Regions from separate parts of the Homo sapiens genome. Here region 1 is linked to region 2. The links come from fine-mapping of genetic effects on gene expression. A gene starts in region 2. The other region holds a variant in brackets. All regions are shown on one strand. Distances are from middle to middle.

Region 1 (16,274 bases), 370 kb before region 2:
ATGCAAAAACTCCAGGAGGCATTTCCAGCTGCATGTAGAACTCTGTAGTTTCTGCCTCTGGTGATGGAGTTTGGGGGTCATCTGAATGGGGAGTGATGAGAGGTAGGAGCTGAAATAGAAAGATGCGGCCGGGCACGGTGGCTCACGCCTGTAATCCCAGCACTTTGGGAGGCCGAGATAGGCGGATCACGAGGTCAGGAGGTTGAGACCAGCCTGACCAACATGGTGAAACCCCGTCTCTACTACAAATACAAAAATTAGCCAGCCATGGTGGTGTGCGCATGTAATCCCAGCTACTCGGGAGGCTGAGGCAGGAGAATCACTTGAACCTAGGAGGCGGAGGTTGCGGTGAGCCAAGATCATGCCACTGCACTCCAGCCTGGGTGACAGAGTGAGACTCCATCTCGGAAAAAAAAGAAAAGAAAAAGAAAGAAAGAAAAAAGAAAGATGCAAATAAAACAGAGGTGAGGACAGCAGCGGGTGAGGAGTGGGTCTTCGATGTTGGTAGAAACTTCTCTAATCTTTTACACCTCTAACTCTATCTCCCTCCTGAAAGCCCTCATCTGGCCTGGAATTGGCTTTGAGGGTTGTACCACTATGCATTTTGATAACACATGATGAGTTTTTAGATCAAAGCACACTAGGGTAGTTGTTGTTGAATACATGCATGGCTAATTCTATAGCCTCCTGTGGGGTCAGGTTACCCCCAAGCCCTGTGCCTCAGCCATGGGACACATGGCGATGGTTGTGGATGGATCCTCATGCACCATTCCCTTAGCTCTTGTGTTCGTAATAGAATCCTTATTTGAGAACCTGGGTCCCTATCAGTACAAGTAAAAGGAAAAGAAGAAACACCCAGAGTGAGATTCTTCAGGTAGCTTTGAGGATGCCCAAGGTGAAACATTAATCAATCAATAACAACATGATGGAGAGGCAGGTGTTCCCTCTTCTGTACCCCCTTTCCTGGAGTGTGGGAACTACTGAGGCTCTCACAATGCAACTCAAGGCTAGGGAGGAGATAGATACCATTTTGTTTTTGTTTTGGTTTTGAGACGGAGTCTCACTCTGTCGCTCAGGCTAGAGAGCAGTGGCATGATCTCGGCTCACGGCAACCTCCGCCTCCCAGGTTCAGGCAATTCTCCTGCCTCAGCCTCCCAAGTAGCTGGGACTACTGGTGCCTGGCCACCATGCCCGGCTAATTTTTGTAGTTTTACAGAATTTTTTTTGTAGAGATAGGATTTCACCATGTTGGTGAGGCTTGTCTCAAACTCCTGACCTCTGGTGATCCACCAACCTCGGCCTCCCAAAGTGCTGGGATTACAGGTGTGAGCCACTGCACCTGGCCTAGACATATACCATTTTTGAATAACAAGGTATAGTAGAAACGCCAGCGGGAAGTTTACTCTTCATAGGTTGAACACGTGATGTTGCAGATGCATTACCTCAATGCTGATCACCACGAGGGCTAATGAAATCCAAAGGAACTTTCTGCCAGCCCACTCGTCACTCCCCCTGCCCACTAACCAGTCATGCAGACAGAAATGGCTAAAAAGGCCCCAACATCCACACCAAAGACTGGGCACAGAGGCTAGTGCTTGAAAAGGACCAAAGGGCAGAGGTGCAGAGAGAGTGGGAAGGAGAGAACCTGGCGGAGCGAGGGTGATCTTTGCTAGTGAAGGTGGCCACACACTTAGTCTTCCAGATGGGTACATGGTCACGGAGACACATTCAACAGGGCAGAAGAGCCACAGCAAACCCTGGCTGTGTGGGTTTTCTATGGAGAGGGCTTGAAGCGAGGCTTCTGGGGGTTCCCTGTGTGACCAAAAGACCAGCTACCAGAAAGGCTGCTTGGCATGGGTCTGGCACTGCCTTCCCTTCCCAACAAGGGTCAAAGGAGGGGCTACTTCAGCCTATGCTGAATGCTTCCTAGGTGCCAGGTGCTCGAACACACATAATCCCCTTGGCAGAGAGAGCCCAGTCACCATCCAAGGTCCCAGGGATTAGACACCGGGCCTGTCTGACTTGGGTCTGTGGTCTTCCTATAACACAGGAAAATGGCAGCAGCTGACAGGCTTCTTGTTTTAAGCACTGGCTGGGGTCCACCTCTCTTCTGAGGCTGCTTCAAGCCCTGCCAAGGTCCTCCCAACAGAGCTCGGTCATGCCAGATATGAATTCGTTTCACACCCCTCTGATCTTTTCCACGCTGCCAAACACACTGCATCCCTCCTTTTCACTTAGGCATTCTGTTGAAGGTGAAAACAACATGTTGGAAGAGGGCTGTGAGAGGAATGAGGGAACACTTATTTTAAAATGAGATTTACCCTGTTCAGCCCTACTCAGTCCTTGGAAATGAACTTCAGCACAGATTAGAGGTCTCTTTTTGGAAAATGGCAAAATTACAGAGACTGGTCCACTCCTATGTCCTCTTACTGGTCCCTTGGAATAGTACTTTTCAAACTTTACTGTGCCTAAGCATCCCCTACAGAGCTTCCTAAAACTCATATTCTTGGGCCCCATCCCCAGAGACTCTGATTCAGTGGGTCTGGGTGGGGCAGAGGCAGAATTGTCAGTTTTGACAAGCTCCCAAATGATGCAGATGCGAATGGTCAGCGAAGTGTGTGTGGAGTGCCCCTGCCTTGTGGATGTCACAAATGAACCTTTTCTAGGCACTGGCTGGATTTGTCTGCCAGTGCTGGAAGAGTGGTGAACTTTCTAGATTGCCCTGAGGGCCCCTGGGAAGTGTGGCTCCCTCGAGTGTTACTAACACCCAGGAACATCAAACGGTCCCCAACTTTCTCTTCCTCCCACTCACTTGGTGGGGAGAGAAGGACAGAAGATTGGAAAGAGAAGAAGGAAGCACTAAAATAAACTTTGCCTACTGGTGATTGTGCTGAGACCATTCCTGCCAAGAGAATGACTAGAAACAATATTTGCGTTTGATCCAGATTTGAAGATTTGAGGTTGGACACGCATATCAGTTTCCTTATTTGTAAAACCCGGATAAAACTACGACCTTGAAGATTCTTGTGAGGAGTAGAGTCACAGCTGGTGAGGGTAGCACCAGAGCCAACATCTGGTTTCTCAGAATCTCAGGTCAGTGCGCTCATGAGCACACCAATGACAGTGGTGCCCACAGAGTGAGCACCCACCAGGTCTAGGCATTGCATAAATGGCTCCACAGATGATGTTCCAGTGAAACCTCACAATACCCTGACAAAAAAGATATTGTTCTTCTCATATTACTCCTGAAGAAACCCAGTATTAGAGATTAAATAACTTGTCCAAGGTCACAGGGCCAGAGGTGGGATCCAGATCTCACTCACACTGTGGCTGTTACCACCTCACAAACCCCAGGGATCCTCCCACCAGTGCCCTCAAAAAACCGTCAGGTTGGCTGCAGCCCAAATAGGGCTGAGAGTGGGGAGAGCTGGGGTGTAGAACCTGCTGTCATGAAGCTATGTGGACTAGGGCAAGCCATTTTCCCTATCTGGACCTCAGTTTCCTCATCTGTAAAATGGTGTCTAAGTGCCCTTCCAATGCTGATATATAAGGACTCCACTACTTTTTCACTAGGGCATTGGTACCAAGTTGAGTTCCGTAAGATTCTCTCATTGCCAGCATGCCATCTCCAGGGTTCCAGCAGTCAGTAAACCAGGTCCCAGGGAACCACTTAGACTCTTGTACCCCTCAGGCTTAAAGAGGAGGGGCCTCTATAGATCATCAACAAAGACAGCTGCAAGTCAGAAAGCAGGAAGGTCCAGGTGAGCTGCTGGCTCAAACTAGGCAAGTACGTGGGGTGGGTCCTGTCATGTCTTTTCCTTGACATTTAAAGAAGGGAATATGAGCACAGTAAGGTATGTACTCTGTACAAAAATGTTTCAACACTATTTCTTCATAGATGACATAGTTAAAGAGACTGGATCCAGCTGCCAGGCTGAGTGCATACAACCATTCAATGTCAACACAACCTTCTTACAAGGCAGAACAAAGATTTTATTTTAATTTAATAGAGAACACCCACCATTAGCATGACATTTACCACTAACACTTTACTTGCTTTATCACATATCTATTGATCTAGCCATTCACTAATCCATCTTATTTTTGATGGATTTCAAAGTAAATTGTGACTTCAGTACATTTCCCCCTAAATATTCAAGTATACAGATCACTAACTAGAATTCAATATTTGATATATTCTCTTTGATGTAAAATTTATATACAATGAAATGCACCAATCTTGCATATGTGTTAGCTGAATTTTGTCAAATGCATCAAACCTGCACAATGCAAACCCCCATGAAGACACAAAGAATTGCCATCACCTCAGAGTGTTCTCTCAAGCCCCTTCCTGTCATAGATTCTTCCCGTTCTTCATTAAAGATTTGTTTTACCCAGGACAGGTTTTTAAATTTAGTTTTATCGAGTTATAGTTTACATACAATGAAATTCACCAATTTTGTTTTTCTGGATGAGTTTTAACAAAGTTGTGATACAGTTGTGCAACCACCACCAGAGCCATGACATAACATATTTCCATCACCCCAAAACTTTCCCTCATGCTCTTCTGCAGCCAATCACCTCTCCCTCACACCTCGCCCCTGGAAACCGCTGATCTGCTCTCTGTCACTGTAATTTCGCCTTCTCTAGAATGTCACATTAATGTTACAATATAGTATGTAACCTTCCACATTTAGCTTCTTTCAGTCAGCCATATGCTTTTCAGACTTACTCATGTTGTTGTATGTATCAATAGTTCATTCTTTTCTTACTGAAAAGTAGCATTCCATTGTGCTTGATGTACATAATTTGCTTATCCATTCACCTGTTGATGAACATTTGGATTATTTTCTGTTTCTGGAACTCAAATCCCAAACGAATACAATATAGAAATGATATGGAGTGAGTCTTGGCTGGAAAGAATTAATCTCTGTAGTAACTCTTGTATGGGGAGTGGGGATAGACATCTAGACCAAGGATCAGCAAACTTATTCAGTAAAGGGCCAGATTACAAATATCTTAGCCTTCGTGGGCCATACAGTCTTTGTCTCAACCACTCAACTCTCCCATGATAGCACAAAAGCAGCTACATATATAAACAACTATATATATATCTAAAGACAATATAGAAACAAGTAAGTGTGGCTGTGTTCCAATGAAACCTTGCTTATGGACACTGAAATCTGAATGCTATATACGTTTCATGTGTCATAAAATGTTATTTGTCTTTTGATTTTTTTTAACCACTTAAAAATATAAAGGCCGAGTGCAATGGTTCATGCCTGGAATTCCAGCACTTTGGAAGAACAAAGTGGGAGGATCACTTGAGCTCAGGAGTTCAAGACCAGCCTGGGTAACATAGCAAAACACTGTCTCTACCCCCTAAAAATAAACAAAAACCAAAAACAAAAATTAACTGGGCATGGTGGTGTGTACCTATAGTCCCAGCTACTCAGGGGGCTGAGGTGGGAGGATCTCTTGAGCATCAGAGGTCAAGGCTACCGTAAGCCTTGATTGTGCCATTGCACTCTAGCCTGGGTGACAGAGTGAGACCCTGTCTCAATAATAAATAAATACAAATACAAAAAAAAATTCTTAGCTTCTAGGCTGTGCAAAAATGTGGAATAGGTGGGATTTTGTTACCAAAATACCAGGGGTTCAGTCTAGGTCCTGCTGCTCACAGCACAGAAAGCCAGTCACTGAGACAACAAGCACTGCCAAGGAAGAAGGCTTTAATTGGGTGCCAAGGAGGTGGGAGCTCAGTCTCAAATCCGTCTCTCTGACAAACTAAAACCTGGGGTTTATAGAGCAGGGAAGAAATGTAATGATGTGTAAAGAAACAGGAACCAGGGAGGGGCAAGGAAGCAATCATGATGAATGAGGGGTCAGGCATGTCATTGTCTGAATGTGGTGATCTGGGGAGTTTCAGTTCTTTGCTACTTTCTTGAGAGGCCTGAAGGTCTTTTCCTGAGGAAGGAACTCAGATAAAGCAAATGTAAACTTCAAGCTTTAAGATCAGAAAAGTCAATTTCTATGTTTATCCAAAAGAACAGTCTATGGGACTATTTGGTTGGTTTCAACTTGGCCCATAGGCTGTAGTTTGTTAATAGTCTAGATTACTTCAAAACATTTTAGAAAACTATGTTCAAGTACATGTCATCAAAATTTAATTATAACCACAAGAGGAATAGAAATAGGATATATAACTGCCAATCCGTAAAAGGAAAAACAATGGAATAACAACGATCACCTGAAGAAAAGATTAAAAAGTAAAAGAAAATAAGAAAGTATGATAAATAGAAGACAGAAAATAACATGACAGGAATAAATCTAATCGCATATGTAATAACAGTACTCATGAATAGGTTAAATTAGCCTATTACAAGACACAGAGTTTCAGTTTAGGTAAAGAAAATTTAAAAAATGAGCCACTGCTGTTGCCAAAAGTTATATCTAAAATGAAATTATACAGGATATTTGAAAACAAAGGTATAGAACTATATATGCTACCTAAATGCGTATCAAATATTATGTAATTGCTTCAAGGACAGGTAAATTGTTGTTTATTACATAATAAACAGCGAACACTAGGTAAATTGCTAGAAAAACAGACGTATCAATATTAACACCAAAAACAACAATTTGAAATAAAAAGCATCAAGGCCAACAGGGAGAGTTCATATTGATAAAAGTTGTAGTCCACCAAAAAGATATACTAATCATATGCTTCAGTGTACCTCAGAATAGAATTCTGAAATCTATTGAATGTATATATATATCAATAGAATATTATACTGGATAAATAGAAAGTACCCATTCTTTCAAGCATCTACAGTCCTTTTACAAAATGAGTCATGTATTTGACCACAAGGAGAATTCCAATACATTTCAAAAAGCATAAGTTATACAAACCTTCTTGTCTGGCCACTGCACAATAAAATTAAAAATTAAAAAGCAGCAGCCAGGCATGGTAGCTCATGCCTGTAATCCCAGCACTTTGGGAGGCTGAGGTGGGTGGATAACTCAAAGCCAGGAGTTCAAGACCAGCCTGAGCAACATGGAAAAACCCCATCTC[T/C]ACCAAAAATACAAAAATTAGCCAGTCTCATGACCTGGTCTCAAAAAAAGAAAAAAAAATTAAAAAGCCAAATGAAACATACAAGATAACAAACATATACATATATATATATATATATATATATATATATATATATATGTATGTATGTATGTATGTATTTTCCCCCAACTGGAAGTTCTAAAGCAACCTCTAATGCAGCAGTCCCCAACATTTTTGGCACCAGGGACCAGTTTCAAGGAAGACAATTTTTCCATATATGCAGTGAGAGGGCTGGTTTCAGGATGAAACTGTTCTACCTCAGATCATCAGGCATTAGATTCTCATAAGGAGCATACAACCTGGATCCCTCGCATGTGCAGTTCACAATAGGGTTCGCACTCCTATGAGAATCTAATGCTGCTGCTGATTTGACAGTAGGTGGAGCTCAGGTGGTAATGCTCATTCTCAGGCTGCTTGCCTCCTGCTGTGTGGCCCAGTTCCTAACAGGCCACAGACTGCTCCCGTCTGCGGCCTGTGGGTTAGGAACTCCTGCTCTAACATTACTCTTAAGTTAACATTACTCTTAAGTTAAAGAGGAAACCGTAAACTAGAAAGAAGTGACCATCAGAAACCCTGTTTTAGGGGCTTGTGGGACATGGCCCAAGTGGGACTCAGGATAAGTTTATTAGAAACAAGTAGGGCTAACACTAAATGAAAGAGCATGAAATCAATAGTCTAGAATGAAAAGGCAGCAAAATAAACTCAAAGAAAGTAGAGGGATGGAGTATAAAAATCAGCAGAATTTAATGAGGTAGAACACTCACAGAAAATATGAACTTAGTTAATAAAACAAAATCTTGATCTTTGAAAAGACCATTACTATTTACAAATCTAGTTAAAATTCATTTTAAAATATATTTAAATTTAAAAGATAATTAATGTTTGAAATGGGCAAGAAAATACAACTATGGATATTTTTTAAATATTTCCAAAGATGATCAAAAAGAAATTGTTAATTTAAAAAATTGAAAACCTAGATTGAAATACAAAATTTTCTAAGAAAGTGTAAATTACCAATTTTTTTTTTTGTAGGGACTATGCAATGAGATTTTGCAGCAGGGAAGAGAGATTGGGTTCAACTCTCAAAATTACCAAAATGAACACAAGAAGAGACAGAAAACCTATATAGGTCAATAAACACATAAGAAATTAGAACAACTGTCAAAGTTCTTTTTCTAAAAAAACACCCAAACAGACTCAGATGGTTTTATTTGTGAATTACATCTAATTTTCAAGGGTCTAATACTTTCTATGATATATGAATTCTTCCAGAGTATAGGAAATAATCAGAAATCTACAAAGCTAAATACCAAACTGGAAAGCATAGCATATGTGCCAGTTGGGTGCCACAAGAGGCAACTGGTTTTTTTTTTTTTTGTCTTTTTTTTTTTTTAATATACTTTAAGTTTTAGGGTACATGTGCACAACGTGCAGGTTTGTTACATATGTATACATATGCCATGTTGGTGTGCTGCATGCATTAACTAGTCATTTAGCATTAGGTATATCTCCTAATGCTCTCCCTCCCCCCTCCCCCCACCCCACAACCGTCCCCGGTGTGTGATGTTCCCCTTCCTCTGTCCATGTGTTCTAATTGTTTAATTCCCACCTATGAGTGAGAACATGCGGTGTTTGGTTTTCTGTCCTTGCGATAGTTTGCTGAGAATGATGGTTTCCAGCTTCATCCATGTCCCTACAAAGGACATGAACTCATCCTTTTTTATGGCTGCATAGTATTCCATGGTGTATATGTGCCACATTTTCTTAATCCCGTCTATCATTGTTGGACATTTGGGTTGGTTCCAAGTCTTTGCTATTGTGAATAGTGCCGCAATAAACATACGTGTGCATGTGTCTTTATAGCAGCATGGTTTATAATCCTCTGGGTATATACCCAGTAATGGGATGGCTGGGTCAAATGGTATTTCTAGTTCTAGATCCCTGAGGAATTGCCACACCGACTTCCACAATGGTTGAACTAGTTTACAGTCCCACCAACAGTGTAAAAGTGTTCCTATTTCTCCACATCCTCTCCAGCACCTATTGTTTCCTGACTTTTTAATGATCACCATTCTAACTGGTGTGAGATGGTATCTCATTGTGGTTTTGATTTGCATTTCTCTGATGGCCAGTGATGATGAGCATTTTTTCATGTGTTTTTTGGCTGCATAAATGTCTTCTTCTGAGAAGTGTCTGTTCATATCCTTTGCCCACTTTTTGATGGGGTTGTTTGTTTTTTTCTTGTAAATTTGTTTGAGTTCATTGTAGATTCTGGATATTAGCCCTTTGTCAGATGAGTAGGTTGCAAAAATTTTCTCCCATTCTGTAGGTTGCCTGTTCACTCTGATGGTGGTTTCTTTTGCTGTGCAGAAGCTCTTTAGTTTAATGAGATCCCATTTGTCAATTTTGGCTTTTGTTGCCATTGCTTTTGGTGTTTTCGACATGAAGTCCTTGCCCATGCCTATGTCCTGAATGGTATTGCCTAGGTTTTCTTCTAGGGTTTTTATGGTTTTAGGTCTAACATGTAAGTCTTTAATCCATCTTGAATTAATTTTTGTATAAGGTGTAAGGAAGGGATCCAGTTTCAGCTTTCTACATATGGCTAGCCAGTTTTCCCAGCACCATTTATTAAATAGGGAATCCTTTCCCCATTGCTTGTTTTTGTCAGGTTTGTCAAAGATCAGATAGTTATAGATATGCGGCATTATTTCTGAGGGCTCTGTTCTGTTCCATTGGTCTATATCTCTGTTTTGGTACCAGTACCATGCTGTTTTGGTTACTGTAGCCTTGTAGTATAGTTTGAAGTCAGGTAGCATGATGCCTCCAGCTTTGTTCTTTTGGCTTAAGATTGACTTGGCAATGTGGGCTCTTTTTTGGTTCCATATGAACTTTAAAGTAGTTTTTTCCAATTCTGTGAGGAAAGTCATTGGTAGCTTGATGGGGATGGTGTTGAATCTATAAATTACCTTGGGCAGTATGGCCATTTTCACGATATTGATTCTTCCTACCCATGAGCATGGAATGTTCTTCCATTTGTTTGTATCCTCTTTTATTTCCTTGAGCAGTGGTTTGTAGTTCTCCTTGAAGAGGTCCTTCACATCCCTTGTAAGTTGGATTCCTAGGTATGTTATTCTCTTTGAAGTGATTGTGAATGGGAGTCCACTCATGATTTGGCTCTCTGTTTGTCTGTTATTGGTGTATAAGAATGCTTGTGATTTTTGCACATTGATTTTGTATCCTGAGACTTTGCTGAAGTTGCTCATCAGCTTAAGGAGATTTTGGGCTGAGACAGTGGGGTTTTCTAGATATACAATCATGTCATCTGCAAACAGGGACAATTTGACTTCCTCTTTTCCTAACTGAATGCTCTTTATTTCCTTCTCCTGCCTGATTGCCCTGGCCAGAACTTCCAACACTATGTTGAATAGGAGTGGTGAGAGAGGGCATCCCTGTCTTGTGCCAGTTTTCAAAGGGAATGCTTCCAGTTTTTGCCCATTCAGTATGATACTGGCTGTGGGTTTGTCATAGATAGCTCTTATTATTTTGAGATACGTCCCATCAATACCTAATTTATTGAGAGTTTTTAGCATGAAGGGTTGTTGAATTTTATCAAAGGCCTTTTCTGCATCTATTGAGATAATCATGTGGTTTTTGTCTTTGGTTCTGTTTATATGCTGGATTAAGTTTATTGATTTTTGAATGTTGAACCAGCCTTGCATCCCAGGGATGAAGCCCACTTGATCATGGTGGATAAGCTTTCTGATGTGTTACTGGATTCGGTTTGCCAGTATTTTATTGAGGATTTTTGCATCAATGTTCATCAAGGATATTGGTCTAAAATTCTCTTTTTTTGTTGTGTCTCTGCCAGGCTTTGGTATCAGGATGATGCTGGCCTCATAAAATGAGTTAGGGAGGATTCCCTCTTTTTCTATTGATTGGAATCGTTTCAGAAGGAATGGTACCGGCTCCTCCTTGTACCTCTGGTAGAATTCGGCTGTGAATCCATCTGGTCCTGGACTTTTTTTGGTTGGTAAGCTATTAATTATTGCCTCAATTTCAGAGCCTGTTATTGGTCTATTAAGAGATTCAACTTCTTCCTGGTTTAGTCTTGGGAGGGTGTATGTGTTGAGGAATTTATCCATTTCTTCTAGATTTTCTAGTTTATTTGCATAGAGGTGTTTATAGTATTCTCTGATGGTAGTTTGTATTTCTGTGGGATTGGTGGTGATATCCCCTTTGTCATTTTTTTATTGCGTCTATTTGATTCTTCTTTCTTTTCTTCTTTACTAGTCTTGCCAGCGGTCTATCAGTTTTGTTGATCTTTTCAAAAAACCAGCTCATGGATTCATTGATTTTTTGAAGGGTTTTTTCTGTCTCTATTTCCTTCAGTTCTGCTCTGATCTTAGTTATTTCTTGCCTTCTGCTAGCTTTTGAATGTGTTTGCTCTTGCTTTTCTAGTTCTTTGAATTGTGATGTTAGGGTGTCAATTTTAGATCTTTCCTGCTTTCTCTTGTGGGCATTTAGTGCTATAAATTTCCCTCTACACACTGCTTTGAATGTGTCCCAGAGATTCTGGTATGTTGTGTCTTTGTTCTCATTGGTTTCAAAGAACATCTTTATTTCTGCCTTCATTCCTTTATGTACCCAGTAGTCATTCAGGAGCAGGTTGTTCAGTTTCCATGTAGTTGAGCAGTTTTGAGTGAGTTTCTTAGTCCTGAGTTCTAGTTTGATTGCACTGTGGTCTGAGAGACAGTTTGTTATAACTTCTGTTCTTTTACATTTGCTGAGGAGTGCTTTACTTCCACCTATGTGTTCAATTTTGGAATAGGTGTGGTGTGGTGCTGAAAAGAATGTATATTCTGTTGATTTGGGGTGGAGAGTTCTGTAGATGTCTATTAGGTCCACTTCGTGCAGAGCTGAGTTCAATTCCTGGATATCCTTGTTAACTTTCTGTCTTGTTGATCTGTCTAATGTTGACAGTGGGGTGTTAAAGTCTCCCATTATTATTGTGTGGGAGTCTAAATCTCTTTGTAGGTCACTAAGGACTTGCTTTATGAATCTGGGTGCTCCTGTATTGGGTGCATATGTATTTAGGATAGTGAGTTCTTCTTGTTGAATTGATCCCTTTACCATTATGTAATGGCCTTCTTTGTCTCTTTTGATCTTTGCTGGTTTAAAGTCTGTTTTATCCGAGGCTAGGATTGCAACCCTGCCTTTTTTGTTTTCCATTTGCTTGGTAGATCTTCCTCCATCCCTTTATTTTGAGCCTATGTGTGTCTCTGCATGTGAGATGGGTTTCCTGAATACAGCATACTGATGGGTCTTGACTCTTGATCCAATTTGCCAGTCTGTGCCTTTTAATTGGAGCATTTAGCCCATTTACATTTAAGGTTAGCATTGTTATGTGTGAATTTGATCCTGTCATGATGATGTTAGCTGGTTATTTTGCTCATTAGTTGGTGCAGTTTCTTCCTAGCCTTGATGGTCTTTACAATTTGGCATGTTTTTGCAGTGGCTGGTACCGGTTGTTCCTTTCCATGTTTAGTGCTTCCTTCAGGAGCTCTTTTAGGGCAGGCCTGGTGGTGAAAAAATCTCTCAGCATTTGCTTGTCTGTAAAGTATTTTATTTCTCCTTCACTTATGAAGCTTAGTTTGGCTGGATGTGAAATTCTGGGTTGAAAATTCTTTACTTTAAGAATGTTGAATATTGGCCCCCACTCTCTTCTGGCTTGTAGAGTTTCTGCCGAGAGATCAGCTGTTAGTCTGATGGGCTTCCCTTTGTGGGTAACCCGACCTTTCTCTCTGGCTGCCCTTAACATTTTTTCCTTCATTTCAACTTTGGTGAATCTGACAATCGTGTGTCTTGGAGTTGCTCTTCTCGAGGAGTATCTTTGTGGCGTTCTCTGTATTTCCTGAATTTGAATGTTGGCTTGCCTTGCTAGATTGGGGAAGTTCTCCTGGATAATATCCTGCAGAGGGTTTTCCAGCTTGGTTGCATTCTCCCCATCACTTTCAGGTACACCAATTAGACGTAGATTTGGTCTTTTCACATAGTCCCATATTTCTTGGAGGCTTCGTTCGTTTCTTTTTATTCTTTTTTCTCTAAACTTCTCTTCACGCTTCATTTCATTCATTTCGTCTTCCATCACTGATACCCTTTCTTCCAGTTGATCGCATTGGCTACTGAGGCTTGTGCAGTCGTCACGTAGTTCTCCTGCCGTGGTTTTCAGCTCCATCAGGTCCTTTAAGGACTTCTCTGCATTGGTTATTCTACTTATCCATTGGTCTAATTTTTTTTCAAAGTTTTTAACTTCTTTGCCATTGGTTCAAACTTCCTCCTTTAGCTCGGAGTAGTTTGATCTTCTGAAGCCTTCTTCTCTCAACTCGTCAAAAGTCATTCTCCATCCAGCTTTGTTCCATCGTTGGTGAGGAGCTGCATTCCTTTGGAGGAGGAGAGGTGCTCTGATTTTTAGAGTTCCCAGTTTTTCTGCTCTGTTTTTTCCCCATCTTTGTGGTTTTATCTACCTTTGGTCTTTGATGATGGTGACGTACAGATGGGTTTTTGGTGTGGATGTCCTTTCTGTTTGTTAGTTTTCCTTCTGACAGTCAGGACCCTCAGCTGCAGGTCTGTTGGAGTTTACTCGAAGTCCACTCCAGACCCTGTTTGCCTGAGTATCAGCAGCAGTGGCTGCAGAACAGCAGATATTAGTGTATCACAAATGCTACTGCCTGATTGTTCCTCTGGAAGTTTTGTCTCAGAGGAGTACCCGAAGGTGTAAGGTGTCAGTCCGCCCCTACTGGGGGATGCCTCCCATTTAGGCTACTCAGGGGTCAGGGACCAACTTGAGGAGGCAGTCTGCCTGTTCTCAGATCTCAAGCTGCGTGCTGGGAGAACCACTACTCTCTTCAAAGCTGTCAGACAGGGACATTTAAGTCTGCAAAGGTTATTGCTGTCTTTTGTTTGTCTGTGCCCTGCCCCCAGAGGTGGAGCCTACAGAGGCAGACAGGCAGGCCTCCTTGAGCTGTGGTGGGCTCCACCCAGTTTGAGCTTCCCGGCCGCTTTGTTTACCAACTCAAGCCTTGGCAATGGTGGGCGCCCCTCCCCCAGCCTCGCTGCCACATTGCAGTTTGATCTCAGACTGCTGTGCTAGCAATGAGCGAGGCTCCGTGGGCATAAGACCCTCCGAGCCAGGTGCTGGATATAATCTCCTGGTGTGCCGTTTGTTAAGCCCATTGGAAGAGTGCAGTATTAGGGTGGGAGTGACCCAATTTTCCAGGTGCTGTCTGTCACCCGTTTCTTTAACTAGGAAAGGGAATTCCCTGACCCCTTGCACTTCCTGGGTGAGGCGATGACTCACCCTGCTTCAGCTCACGCACAGTGTGCTGCATCCACTGTCCTGCACCCACTGCCCGGCACTCCCCAGTGAGATGAACCCAGTACCTCAGTTGAAAATGCAGAAATCACCCATCTTCTGCGTCGCTCACGCTGGGAGCTGTAGACTGGAGCTGTTCCTATTTGGCCATCTTGGCTCCTCGAGAGGCAACTGTTGACTTGAAGTTAGGAATGCAAACAGTTTGTCACACCTGCAAAAGAGAAAAGGTGGGCTCAGGATTAGGTAAGAGAAGCTGTCAGACCAGGATACATATCTGACCAAGTATTTGCCAGGCCAACAAGAAGCCCCAGAGTTCTAGAAGCCATGCAATAAAATTATAAATCAAATTAGAGGCGGGTACAGTGGCTCACGCCTGTAATCCTAGCAATTTGGGAGGCCGAGGTGGATGGATCACCTGAGGTCGGGAGTTCAAGACCAGCCTGACCAACATGGTGAAACCCCATCTCTACTAAAAATACAAAAAATTAGTTGGGCGTGGTGGCAGTTGCCTGTAACTCCAGCTACTTGGGAGACTGAGGCAGGAGAATCACTTGAACCCTGGAGGCAGAGGCTGCAGTGAGCCGAGATCATGCCACTGCACTCCAGCCTGGGTGTGACAGAGCAGGACTCCATCTCAAAATAAATAAATAAACAAATAAGTGGAGGCTGTGTTCAAGGAAAATGGCTGGGCCCTTGTTCCTTCCTCACTCTAGCTTAGTCATTACCTGAAAGCATTCTGAGAAAAGCATGACCTTGTGTCACCACAAAATATTAAAAACAAAGAAGAAGAAGAAGAAGAAAGAAAAGAAAACTAGGCTGGGCATGGTGGCTCACGTCTGTAATCGCAGCACTTTTGGAGTCCAAGGCACAAAGATTGCTTGAGCCTAGGAGTTTGAAACCAGCCTGGGCAACATGGCGAGAACCCCATTCTACAAAAAAATACAAAAAAAATAGCTGGGCATGGGGACATGCACCTGTAGTCCCAGCTACTTGCAGGGCTGATGTTGGGTGAGGATCATCTGAGCCCAGGAGGTGAAGGCTGCAGTGAGCCATGATCGCGCCACTGTACTCCAGCCTGAGTAACAGAGCAAGACCCTGTAAAAAAGAAGAGATAGAGAGAGAGAGAGAAGAAAGAAAAAGAAAGGAAAGAAAGGTAGAAAGAACGAGAGAAAGAAAGAGAAAGAAAGAAAACTATGGGCTAATCTCACTAAAAACTTAAAGGCAACAATAATAATAATAATAATAAACCTATTAGCAACTTGACTCCAGTGGTGTTTTAAAAGGATTATACACAAAGAATATAAAGATAGCTTTAAGCAGAGAATCTATTAAGATAATTTGCTACAGGACTAGATGAAGGGCAGAAAAGATATTCCCATCACAATAAATGCTTTCATGAATAGATTTGATAAAATGTATGCCTATTTCTGAATTAGAATCTAAAATTCTCAGCAATCTAAAGGTAGGAGGAAACTTTCCTTGCTAAAGGCTAACTAACAAAAACTTGTAGCAAACCTCCTATTCAGTGGCAAAAAATTAGACATTCCCAGAAAAGTCAAGAACAAGACAAGATGGCCCACTGCCGCCATTACTACTTTATTTAATAGTCTGCTGGTGATCCTAACCAATTCAATAAGAAATAAAAAGAGAAAGGAGAAGAAAAATTATGAATTTAAAAGTTGCCATTCCTTGTAAAATGGACTGTGGTTATGGTTGCCCAACTCTGAATATATAAAAACCATTAAATTATATCCTTTAAATGGGGTGAATCCTATGGTATTGATGGCA
Region 2 (11,785 bases):
CCACGTTTCCCCCGTGACGCGGGCGCGGGGGCTCGGGAGTTGTAGTCTCGGGCAGGGCGCGGGCACCGAGGCCGGGGCTGCGCGGACTCCACGTCCCGGCGGGCGGCGCGGCGAGGCCTGGGGCCTCCAGGGGCGGGGCCGCTCGGCCCTTTAAACCTTTCAGGGCTGCTCCGAGGGCCGCAGCTAGAGTCGGCGCCACGAGGGGGCCGAGCAGGGTGCGGCGGCGGCGGGGCGCTCCGGGGAGGTGCGTACTGGGCTCCTTCCCTTCCTCCGGGCTTCCAGGAATCACCTGGGGACTCTCGCGTCCCGGGTCCTGGGGGGTCGCCGGCCGCAGGGTCCGGCCCCAGCCGGGGTCCCCGCGCCCAGGCGAGCGGGGGCCGGGCCGGGCTGGGCTTTCCGCGTGAACCCGCCCCTCGCCCAGGGCGCCGATGGTCAGGTGGTTGCCTGCGCGCCGCCGACTCGCCACCGCTCCACTGGGCCGGCACCCAGCCTCTCCTTGGCGTGGCCTCTTCGGTTGTCCAGCCCTTCTCCCAGCCCTGGTCCCTCAGAAGGAGGGTAACTCCCTTCCAGATGTTACGGTCCGCCTGCGTCTCTCAGCACGCCGGTGGCATTTGGGTTGACCGCGGAGGCCCCCAGTGCCAGAGGGTGTTCACGTTCTGCCGTGGGCTCAGCCCAAACTTTGGACGCTCAGAGACCCAACGGGAGCGCTGGATAAGGTGTTGACCCCCTTCCCCTCCCCCTTCCCGGCCAGTTACCCACTCCTGGACTTTGATCTCTCTCCACCAGGCCAGGACAGCTGATGGTTGTGGCAGAAACATCTCAAGGTAGCTGGTCCGCCCCCACTTCCCCATCTACCTCTTGTCCTCCCCCCAACACCACCACCACCCTGGCTCCCCTCCCTCATGACCGCCTGGATCCTCCTGCCTGTCAGCCTGTCAGCGTTCTCCATCACTGGCATATGGACTGTGTGAGTAAAGGGGGGTGCCCGGGGGGCAACAGGAGCTTGATGACGCACACAAAGTCTCTTGTCCTGTCATAGCCACGGTGGTACCCAGGGTCACTCTGGGTGTCTCAAAAGCCTGACTTGGTGCCTGGGCACACAGCCCCTTGGGACAAGCTGGCACCACTGCTGTCCAGCAGGGTGGCCCTGACAAATATACTTCTAGCCAGGGCAATTTCCAGAGGGCCTGTAGCTGGGGGCATGCTGCAGGTGCTGGTGTGGCATCAAGCCTTAGGGACCTCAACTTGAGTCCCCAGCAACAATAATGAGGCTGAATGGGGCCAGAAATCAAGGTTGAAGAGAAGGGTCATGGGGTGGGTTGAGTGGGGCTCGGGAAGGCTGCCAGGGTGACAGTTCTGTTCCCACAGGTATGCCATGGCTGTGATGAACCACCATGTATGCCCTGTGGAGAACTGGTATGAAGGACTCTGCAGACAACCTTGCTCTAAAGCTTCCTTCATCTCTGTCCCCTCTTGGGCCTGAGGCTGCCACGAGCCAGACTGCAACCCTGAGCCTCACTGCTCTTCTCTGAAATTGGTCCCCAGGCATGGCTTCTTGCCACCTACCCACTTCCCACTATCCCTTTGCCCCTTTGGTTACTGCTTCAGGCGGGCACTGGGGAGTGGGATCTTCTGTCCCTGTAGGGGAGGTCTGGGAGAGAGTCCTCTTTGAGGCCTGAGGCTATAGGCCAAGGGCCTGGGGGCAGTCCCTTCCCCCAGTCTACTCCCTGTCCTGCCTGCCAGGTCCTACAACGAGTCCTGCCCTCCTGACCCTGCTGAGCAAGGGGGTCCCAAGACCTGCTGCACCCTGGACGATGTCCCCCTCATCAGGTAAGGCCTGGACATTGGGCCGGTCAGGGAGATCTAAGGGCCTCCCAGACAGCCCCTCAAGCAAAGAGCTGTCCTTGGGTCTCAGGAACAATAAGTATCCTAAGAGCCACTTAATAACAACACTACTTGACAGTTACTGTGGGGCAGGCACTCTGCTGAGTGCTTTATATGCATTGTCTCTTTTCATCCTCCCAGGAGTGAGGCAGGTATTGTTTTCACCATTTTATAGGTGAGGAAACAGGCTCAGTCTTCCTCATCCAGGTCACACAGCTAATAAGCGGAGGCACCTGGATTTAAGCTGGAGCCCTCAGATTGCCCAGCCCGTGTTCTGGCTCAAGGATAGCCAAACCAGCCGCAGGGCTCAGCAAAGAGTGTCAGGGTTGCCCGAACACTCCTGGGCACTCCCTTCTCTCTCACACACATGAGCTCTGCTTTGGGGGCCCAGCCTGGAACCAGTTGTTCATGAGGGACCCTGGATCTTCACATAAATCAGTGGCCTGCCTGCTAAGGAGCAGGTGCAGGTAAAGCAGGGGAGAGCCAGTGAGCCAAAATGGGGGCCCCCCGGGCCTCCTGCACCCCTCTTACTCTGTCCTTCCCCCTCCTCGCAGCAAGTGTGGCTCCTATCCCCCAGAAAGCTGCCTCTTCAGCCTCATTGGCAACATGGGTGCTTTCATGGGTGAGTTGTACCCTTAGCCCTGACCCTGCGTGCCCAGCCCAGTGATCCCCACACAGAAAGGCCCAGGAAGCCCTTCTGTGCAGCCCTCCCCACCAAGGGCTAAGGCAATAGAGGCAGCTTCTCCCCTTCCTTGAAGGCCAAAAGCTGACTCCCACACAGCCACCCTGCTGGCTGGAGCCTGAGGAAACCTAGTTCACCACCCGCCTGTCTGTTCCTTTCTGCCCCTCAGAAGGGGCAGGAGCACCACAGCGTCTGGGGGAAGCTGACAGGCTCGCTGGGCAGGGCCAGGGCTGGAGGAAGGCCTCAACTGTGCTCTCCTCCCCCAGTGGCCCTGATCTGCCTCCTGCGCTACGGGCAGCTCCTGGAGCAGAGTCGGCACTCTTGGGTTAACACCACGGCACTCATCACAGGCTGCACCAACGCTGCGGGCCTCTTGGTGGTTGGCAACTTTCAGGTGCTTCCCCTTCTCCCCTGCAAACCTTAAACTTTACCTAACAAGGCCTGGCTGCCTGCAGTGTGGCACCTCAAGGTTGGGGCTGGAAAGAGGGAGAGGAAGGAAGAGGGAGAGAGGAGATTCATTGAAGGAGGGGTGGAGAGGTGGGGCCATGGCCACATCACCAACTGGCCCTTCTCTGGGCCCAGGTGGATCATGCCAGGTCTCTGCACTACGTTGGAGCTGGCGTGGCCTTCCCTGCGGGGCTGCTCTTTGTTTGCCTGCACTGTGCTCTCTCCTACCAAGGGGCCACCGCCCCGCTGGACCTGGCTGTGGCCTATCTGCGAAGTGTGCTGGCTGTCATCGCCTTTATCACCCTGGTCCTCAGTATCCTTTCAGGACGGGGCAGCCAGGAACTCATCCTCTAGCTCAACCTTTCTCCCTCCCAAGAGGATGGGGGGTGGAGGCCTAACACTGCCATGTGGGGGAGAGGACTAACACCTCTCCCTTTGGAGAGGTGAGGCCTGAGACTGCAGAAGGGGTGTTGCCAGGTTTCCGTATGTCCTACTGAACATTTCCTTAGCCTCGTTTTAGGTGGAGTCTTCTTTGTCCATGAGAGTTCTCAGCTGCAACATGGGGCAGCCCTGTGTGAGTGGGTGTGTGTCATCGATATCCTCATTTTCTATGGCACCTTCAGCTACGAGTTTGGGGCAGTCTCCTCAGACACACTGGTGGCTGCACTGCAGCCTACCCCTGGCCGGGCCTGCAAGTCCTCCGGGAGCAGCAGCACCTCCACCCACCTCAACTGTGCCCCCGAGAGCATCGCTATGATCTAAGGTCTGGGGAGGGTGGCTGGCCCGGCCTCCACAGCACCCCACCCCATATCTTCTTTCCATTTATTTCGTACCAAAAACAATTTTGAGAAAGTATTCTGTTGGGATCTGGGCTTCCTCACTTCTGGAGAAGTGGCCATCCCATGCCCACCTGTGCCATGGAGGAGTGGGCCCTGCCAGCTGCCACAGCTGCATGACCTGCTTCCCCACCCCACGGTGTCGTTTTGTTTTTAAAGGTCACCTGTCCTCACTCACCCAGCCAGCCCTTCAGGTGCCTTCTACTCCCAGTGCCAAAGCCAGACCACTGGGGTTTCCTGCTGCAGGAATTGGGGGCTGGGAACAGCAGAGGGGATAGAAGTCTGGTGGAGGTGGAGTGGGCACGCCTTAGCCTACGGAAAGGCCCATTTCTGGGCCCACTGAGCTGCACTGGGATTCTTCACTCTGCCCCTCACTTCCTTTAGGGCAAATAACACAGCAGAACCACGTGGGTATTTTAGTACTTTTTTTTATATTAAAAGAATTCTAATTTGCATGTTTGTAGCCTGTTCTGGAGAGTTGGGGGGCCTGATCTGGGATGGCTTTCCATAAGCCAAGGATGGGAGGAAGCCCTTGCCCCCCAGGAGTGCTGAGTGCACTCTGTTGCCAGAAACAAAGGATGCCAGGTGCCACCCAAATACCCCTTCAAAGGGCTTGAAACCCTTCTGGGCCTCTAAGCAATCTAAAGAACTAACTTGGTCTGATAATCTCACCCATCCCCCACTCAGAGTCTGGTTTGAACTTTGATTCCTTAGGAGGCATGGGGGGAAGGTGGGGGTGGTACAGAGAGCAACTTTAAAATATTAAAAGTGGCTTTCTCAATGGAGCAAAAAGAAAACCTGTGGGATTACAAAGTTAACTAGACATTGCAGTGGGAGGAGGGTGCAGGCTAGTTTATCAGCTTTTTTTTTTTTTTTTTTTGAGACGGAGTTTTGCTCTTGTTGCCCAGGCTAGAGTGCAATGGCATGATCTCAGCTCACTGCAACTTCTGCCTCCCAGGTTCAAGCAATTCTCCTGCCTCAGCCTCCCAAGTAGCTGGGATTACAGGTGCGTGCCACCATGCCCAGCTAATGTTTGTATTTTTAGTAGAAACGGGGTTTCACCATGTTGGTCAGGAAGGTCTCGAACTCCTGACCTCGTGATCCACCTGTCTTGGCCTCCCAAACTGCTGGCATTACAGACATGAGCCACTGCACCCAGCCTAGTTTATCAGCTTTAAGTAATTAACTGGGTACCAGACCCTGACACATTTTGCCTTCCAACCATGAACACATAGGCCCAAGCCCTGGCTATTGCAGTAATCCAGTTCTTTACCACTGCCATGAGTCCAGATGGGCCAGCAGGGAGGAAAACCGCAGCCTGGTGCCTTCTGCGATTTAGGATCACCTTCCCCAACAGAAGTAGAGACCTGATGGAGGATGCAGAGCCCCTGGCCAGGTCTGTGATCAATACAGCCTCAGGGTGGGTAAAGAAACCTTTAATGAGGATTCAAGGTTAATAAGGAAGACGCAGAGGGCCAGCACTCAGCCCCAACCTCCTCACGTGTACATGGCTCCATGGAGGTTCTCCAGTCGGTGTTGCTGCTGCTGTTTTCGAGCCTGAAGGAAAGAAGGCATGCTGGGCAGGGGCCAAAACTGAAGGCCTATGGGTGAGGGGATGGGCAGCTATTATGGGGCTGGCTCTGTTTTCAGGCCTCTGGCGTCTGCATTGCTGAGGCTCTCACCACAAATCAAAGTCACTAAGAAGACAGCCAGAGCCAGGGATTCTGAGGCCTACCCAGTCCTGCTGAGGTGGGAAGTGATGGCAGCGGGGACAGGACTCAGGGAGCCCATTACGACCCCTCCACTTAAGCATCAGCCCCTACCTTATCTCGTCTGTGCTCCTCATAAGTGTCGTCATCAGTGGGCAGCTCATAGCGGCACAAGGGACAGGAATTTGTCTGAGAAAAGTAGAGTAGTGTTCTAGCCTTGGTCTGATCTTCATAAGCTGATAACCACCCTCCCCTGCTCCCAACTGCCACTCTTCTTCCATCCCCCAGCAGTCCATGAACAGAAAGAAGCTTGAGTACTGGGCCCAGGGCACGGTGAGAGCTAGAAGAAGAGAAGCAGTACCTTGCTTAGCCAGGGCAGAATGCAGCTGGAATGGAAAAGGTGATGGCAAGGCATCTCAATGGCAGTCTCCTCCTCCTCAAATTCCAAAAGACACACGGGGCACTTGAGCTCTTTAGGAAGGAGTGCTGATCAGGAGAGCTGCTACAGGCTCTGCCTCCCAAGCTCCCACTCCTGAAGGACACTTGCCCCCACCTGACCTGGAAAACTGAAGGACCAGACCACAGTCTGGCTTGGGGAAGGGGTGGGTCTGGCCCAAATAGCAGAAAGAATCAGTGTCCTCACCAGCCTGAGAGCCTCTGATGACTGTCCTGGGGAGGTTCTCAACCACAGTCTTGGCAGCTGGTGGAGGCAGGTGGTGGTCCCAATCTACTACCAACCCCAAGTCTTCAAAGTCCATCCTATTGAAAAGTGACCTGGGGAAGGGGATGTAAAGTCAGAACAAAGGAAAACTATGCTTTTTCTTTGTCCCCATAATCCACTGGACATTAATAAACACGCTGCCCAGCTAGTAGGAATAATAGCTACCCTTAGTAGTTAGTAGATGCTCACTAGATAAAAAGCACGATGGGAAATAGTTTACAACTGCTATCAGACCGCCCCAGCACGTAAAGTGTTTATTCCCATTTTACACATGAGGCAACAGATTCAGAGAAGTTACTCAGGCTACGCTGAATAACCTGGTAGAGCCCAGATTCCAAGACCAAGCCAGATTCCAGGTCCAGTAACAGCAGTGCCTGCTGTTACTGATGAATATACCCACTCACAGCACACGGCCCCAACCCCGCCCCCATGCCTCACCTTCTCTGAGACCTCCCAGAGCCTGCTGTCCTTCCGCCCCCACGCCCACCACTCTCCAGCTCCAATCTTTCCCGCAATCCCCTTGCCCCAGGCCGGCCCAACGGACGGCCCAAATTATCGAGATGCTCATCCCCACACCCCTCAGTCTCGCCGCCCGTACTAACACTCCAGATTACTCATCTGTCCTCCCCAGAATCCGCTGCCCCTGGTAATCCGCCTTCTCCAGCCAGCCCCAGCCCAGAAACCTGCTGGTTGGACCCTATCCCCAAGCCCCGCGCACCCACCTTGCGAGCTCCAGCAGCATGTTGGTTCGCGTCTCCTGCTCAGGGTCCGACGGCTCGCAGTCGTGTTCATCGAAATAGGACGCCATGGCTGCCCAGCCTTCTGACACAGCCCTCGGACCCTGCTCGATAGCGGCCTAGCGGCGCTGGCCAATAAACTGACGAGCTGAGAGAGGCTGGCCAATCAGAGTATCCGAGGGACGGGCATAGTGGCTCGTTAAACAGCACGGAAAGCGGAAGTACTAATTCGGCCCCCTCTCATTGGCTTGAACAAGTCAGGTGACCAGAGACTAACGCCAATGATGGAGATCTGGCTGGTGAGGAATCATTTGTTTTGGAGTCGGAGCCAAGACTGAATTCCCGGGGATTTCTGGCGCGATCGCGTCCAAGTGTCTGGTGTGTAAGGCTCTTCAGTCTGCCCTGAAGCTCAGAGGGCTTCGACAGTACAGATGCTAGAGGCCTCTGCGAGCAAAGGCGGCGCTGGCCCAGGGGTTCAGGTTCCTGCGAGCGTTGGCCCATGGCGCTTCCGGATGCGCTGTCCGGATCCCCGCCGGACACTTCTGCCCCCGCGGCCCTCTAGTTGGTTCACCAGTTTGCGTTTGATTCCTGCGCATTTCTTATGTGTTAGGCATAATAATAAAGGGTGGGGCAAGCCTCCCCAACTGAGAGAGATCTCTTTGCCGGAGAACCTGGGGCCTCAACCAGCTCATGGGACTGTTACCTTCAGCCCGTTGCTATCCCTAGCTTCTGTAAAACTGCTGGCTTGTACTAAGACCTTTTCATTCCTGGCTACACATGAATTCCCAGAGGAGAGAATGGGCGCGGAGGAGCTTTAGAAACACCCGTGTCTGATACCTTCGAAGATTCTGATTTAACTGATCTGTGGTGGGGCCTGGGCAATGGCACTTGTATAAATTATGCAGGTGAAGCAGGTTTAAGAACCACTGCACTCAATGATTTGGATGATAGGTACTATTTAGCATCTAGAACTGTTAGTCTGATGTATGTTTTACACGCTCGATCATCCCCTCAATAGACCCAGGAGCTAAGCGTCATTATGCCCTTTTTACCTCAGAAGTGGCTTGCCCAAATTTGCAGTCTGTAAGTGGTGTTGCAGACCAGCTGCAGGGCCAAGTGCTTTCCTCCATCTTTCCCAAGAGAGGAAGACGCTAATGCGCTCAGTAAAACTAACACGCTCTGTAAGGGGTGAAGCTCCACACAACTCAGGCTTATTCTGGTTTCTGTCAGTAGCGCTCACTTTACCCAGCAAGGAACTGCTTATTTTACACACTTGACCCTGAATTCCCCTTGCCACTCACACCTGAGTTTGAACTGCAGCTAAGTAGCCCAGGCAGAGGCTGCCCTGTTTCCACAGTCTTGGTGTGGCTTTATTTCCTTCTTCCATGCCTTTGCCCAATGATCTTTGCTATGGCCCTGAAGGCACTGCCTCCCTGGCCTATATGGCCCTGTAGCTTTGAAAAGCCTGAATTCAGGCTGGACATGGTGGCTCACGCCTGCAATCCCAGCACTAAAGGCAAGAGAATTGCTTGAGCCCAGGAGTTCGAGACCAGCCTCGGCAACATAGACCCCGTCGAAAGAGGGAGGGAGAGAAGACACAGGAGAGACCCCGTCGAAAAAGGAAGGAAGGGAGGGAGGGAGATGGGAATACCAAGGAGTGCTTTAAGGTCCCCATCTCTTGCTGTCACTTCCCCCATCTGCAGTCTGATGTAAAGCTTGAGGTAGATAGAATGTGGAAAGAGAAATTGAGGAGTGGGAAGTGTTCAGAGGGGAAACCATTTATCTGAAGGTGAGAGCCTTATGAAAAATTTTTTGGGCCAGGCGCGGTGGCTCATGCCTGCAATTCTAGCACTTCGGAAGGCCGAGGCAGGTGGATCACCTGAGGTGAAGAGTTCAAGACCAGCTTGGCCAACATGGTGAAACCTTGTCTCTACTAAAAATACAAAAATTAGCCAGGTGTGATGGTGGGCACCTGTAATCCCAGCTACTTGGGAGGCTGAGGCAGGAGAATTGCTTGAACCCAGGAGGTGGAGTTTGCAGTGAGCTGAGATAGTGCCATTGCACTCCAGCCTGAGCAACAGAGCAAAAACTCTGTCTCAAAAAAAAAAAAAAAAAATTGGTGAAGTGCTTTCTTCTTTGTCATCGCATCTACAGTCTCATTGGTCCTCTAAGCATCCCCAAGATGACAGAAAAATAATAGATTTCATTCTCAGAGAAACAGGCTCAGATGGGGAGGACTGGTTCAAGGGTCTGCTTTGGGGGCCATTGTGTTCTTGCATCCACACTCCCTGTCTGTGTCGGGCTGGATCAAGTAGGGAAGGGAGAGGAAGGAGCCATCTCCCAGGGGTGGAGTCCTTTGGGTGATGGGCTTTTTAAGCAGCCCTAGGGGTAGAGACAGATGGGATTAACCAACCTGGGGACCTTCACACACAGATACCAGCTTTTAATCAAACAGCAGTTTTTACTGAGCTCCAGGTGGGGCTGGCCCAGCATGGCCAGTACAGCAGGCTGCCCTCAAGGGCCAGTCTGTGGCATGACAGGAAATGCAGGGGTGCACATGTTGGGGCTGCCCTTTGGCACTCACTGGGGTGGGTCAAGGGAGAGCAAACACCAAGGTCCTCTGGAGACCAGAATCGGCCAGTGCAGCCATTTGGCTTCTCCTTCAGGACCAGCTGGGTCAGTTCCCAGGCCCTGAGGCAATGCCTGCATCCTGGGTCCGTGGGGCACTACTGCTGTCACTGCTCTGAGGGAGAAAGACGACCAGCAGCACAATCAGGATGATGAGCAGGACACCAACCACCACCAGCCCCACGCAGATCCGGTAACGGATGTTCTCCCAGCACTTCTTCTGGGCCAGGTTCTGTGTAGTCTTGTTGAAGGTTGAGCTCTGCGGATACCCCCAGACACAAAGTGGGAGTTAGCTGGCACCCTCTTGGCCTGGGAGCCAGCTCCTCCCAACCCCATCTCAGTAAGGCTTAGTCTCCTCCTGCATCCTCCCCATCTTGTCTACTTTCTTTCTTTTTTTTTTTTTTTTGAGAAGGAGTCTCTCCCTGTCACCCAGGCTGGAGTACAGTGGCACAATCTCAGCTCACTGCAACCTCTGCCTCCCGGGTTCAAGCAATTCTCCTGTCTCAGCCTCCCTAGTAGCTGGGACTACAGGTGCACACCACTGCGCCCGGCTAATTTTTGTATTTTTAGTTGAGATGGGGTTTCACCATACTGGCTAGGATAGTCTTGAACTCCTGACCTTGTGATCTGCCCACCTCGGCCTCCCAAAGTGTTGGGATTACAGGCGTGAGACACCGCGCCCGGCCTTGTCTGCTCTCTTTCTATACCACCTGCCGTGGAACCCTCCCAGCCTGACTCATCTCAAACACCGGTGTGGCCCTTGACTTTCAGCCCTAGTGTCTCACCCTCAGTTAACAATGCCAGTACTCAGGCTGGACACAGTGGCTCATGCCTGTAATCCCAGCACATTGGAAAGCCAAGGTGGGAGGATCTCTTGGATCCAGGAGTTCAAGACCAGCCTGGGCAACATGGTGAGACCTCATCTCTACAAAAAATCAAAAATTAGACAGGCATGGTGGTGCAGGCTTGTAGTCCTAGCTCTTCAGGAGGCTGAGGCAGGAGGATCACTTAAGCCTGGGAGGTAGAGGCTGCAGCAAATATGATTGTGCCACTGTACTAGCCTGGGCGACAGAGTGAGACTCTGTCTCAAAGTAAAAAAGAAACAAAAAACGATACCAGTTTTCTACCTTTAAGAAGGTCCACAGCTTCAAACCAAGGCCTTCTTATCTTGTGGGGTCTATCTGTTGCATGTCTAGGCTATGGGTGCCTGAGGAAACCCAGAGGCCCCACACTGGCCCTCAAGAAGGCCTCAACCCCACCAAGGAACTGGAGATCCTGAATACAGCCCAAGAGAGACTTTCCCAATCCTCTCCCCTCCCCTCCATGCTCCCCCAGGCCTCACACCATATCCAGGAGTTGGTCTGAACGCTGCTGCAGTTCGGCCAGCTTCACACCACGCTCCAGGACCTTGCCGAAGTTGTTACGCATAATTTCCGTCACCTCGTTCGCCTGCTGCTGGCACCGCTCCAACTCTATTCCTGCCTGGACACCAAGCCCGAGGTCAGGGCTGCATGAGGCCCCCACCTGGCCCTCATCTGCCCCTGAGATCTAGAAGCCTCCTTCTCCCCCTGTAGGTGGGTACAGCATGAGAGTAACAGCATCCTTCGTGTAAGGGTATGATGTGTGCGGAGTGAAGGTCTGGCCTTCGGGGTGAGTGCGGCACACCTTAAGTCTCACAGGCTCCTCCCCTTGCACGTCAAGGCAGGGCCTAGGACCTAGGTAAGTCCCGGCTTCCAGCACCTCAGCTTCCTCTAAGCTGTCCCAAGGTGGGATCTTCCCAGGACCCCACCCTCCCACAAAGCTGATTCTTTTCTCACCTGCTCCAGAATGGCGTCTACCCAATCAATGCACAGCTGCCCTAAGGTTTCCCACTGGCCTAAGAAGGCAGCAAAGAATGGGTAACCAAGCTACCTGGCTGGAACACACAGGGAGGAGACCTACCCTACAGGCTAGAAAGGTAATTTTGAAGCAGCACACATCATAGTCTCTGCCTAACCCCTCTATCCCCAAACTGAGAAGCTCAGATCTTCCTCTTTGGGCCTCTGACTGGTCAGGCCAGTTCTGCCTCCTGGCCTGATCCTGCTCCCTATATCACTGCTCCAACTTCCCTCTCCGTCTGGGAACCTCAGTGGTACCGGTTT

Evidence for each region. PIP is the estimated chance that this variant, and not a neighbour inherited with it, causes the effect.
Region 1: its variant is fine-mapped to the expression of RNF181 in whole blood (INTERVAL, PIP 0.97).

Annotation. Positions count from the first base shown.
Region 1 is chr2:85,962,171-85,978,444 of GRCh38, reverse strand. No RefSeq gene overlaps it. Among named protein-coding and RNA genes, the nearest start is that of ST3GAL5-AS1, 81 kb to the right of the region's middle. The variant T/C (reference allele first, on the strand shown) is at 7,076.
Region 2 is chr2:85,591,066-85,602,850 of GRCh38, reverse strand. It overlaps RNF181 (ring finger protein 181), which reads right to left and starts at 7,106. Exons shown (of 5, transcript NM_016494.4): 1 at 7,002-7,106; 2 at 6,202-6,332; 3 at 5,920-6,029; 4 at 5,673-5,747; 5 at 5,143-5,406. The coding sequence starts at 7,087. The coding sequence ends at 5,347. VAMP5 (vesicle associated membrane protein 5) reads right to left here. Exons shown (of 3, transcript NM_006634.3): 2 at 10,989-11,126; 3 at 9,445-9,903. The coding sequence ends at 9,694. TMEM150A (transmembrane protein 150A) reads left to right here and starts at 153. Exons shown (of 8, transcript NM_001031738.3): 1 at 153-244; 2 at 787-967; 3 at 1,369-1,416; 4 at 1,744-1,830; 5 at 2,439-2,506; 6 at 2,833-2,960; 7 at 3,149-3,326; 8 at 3,534-4,304. The coding sequence starts at 903. The coding sequence ends at 3,775. RefSeq lists silencers at 1-523, 624-683, 7,075-7,214 and enhancers at 9,158-9,657, 9,658-10,159.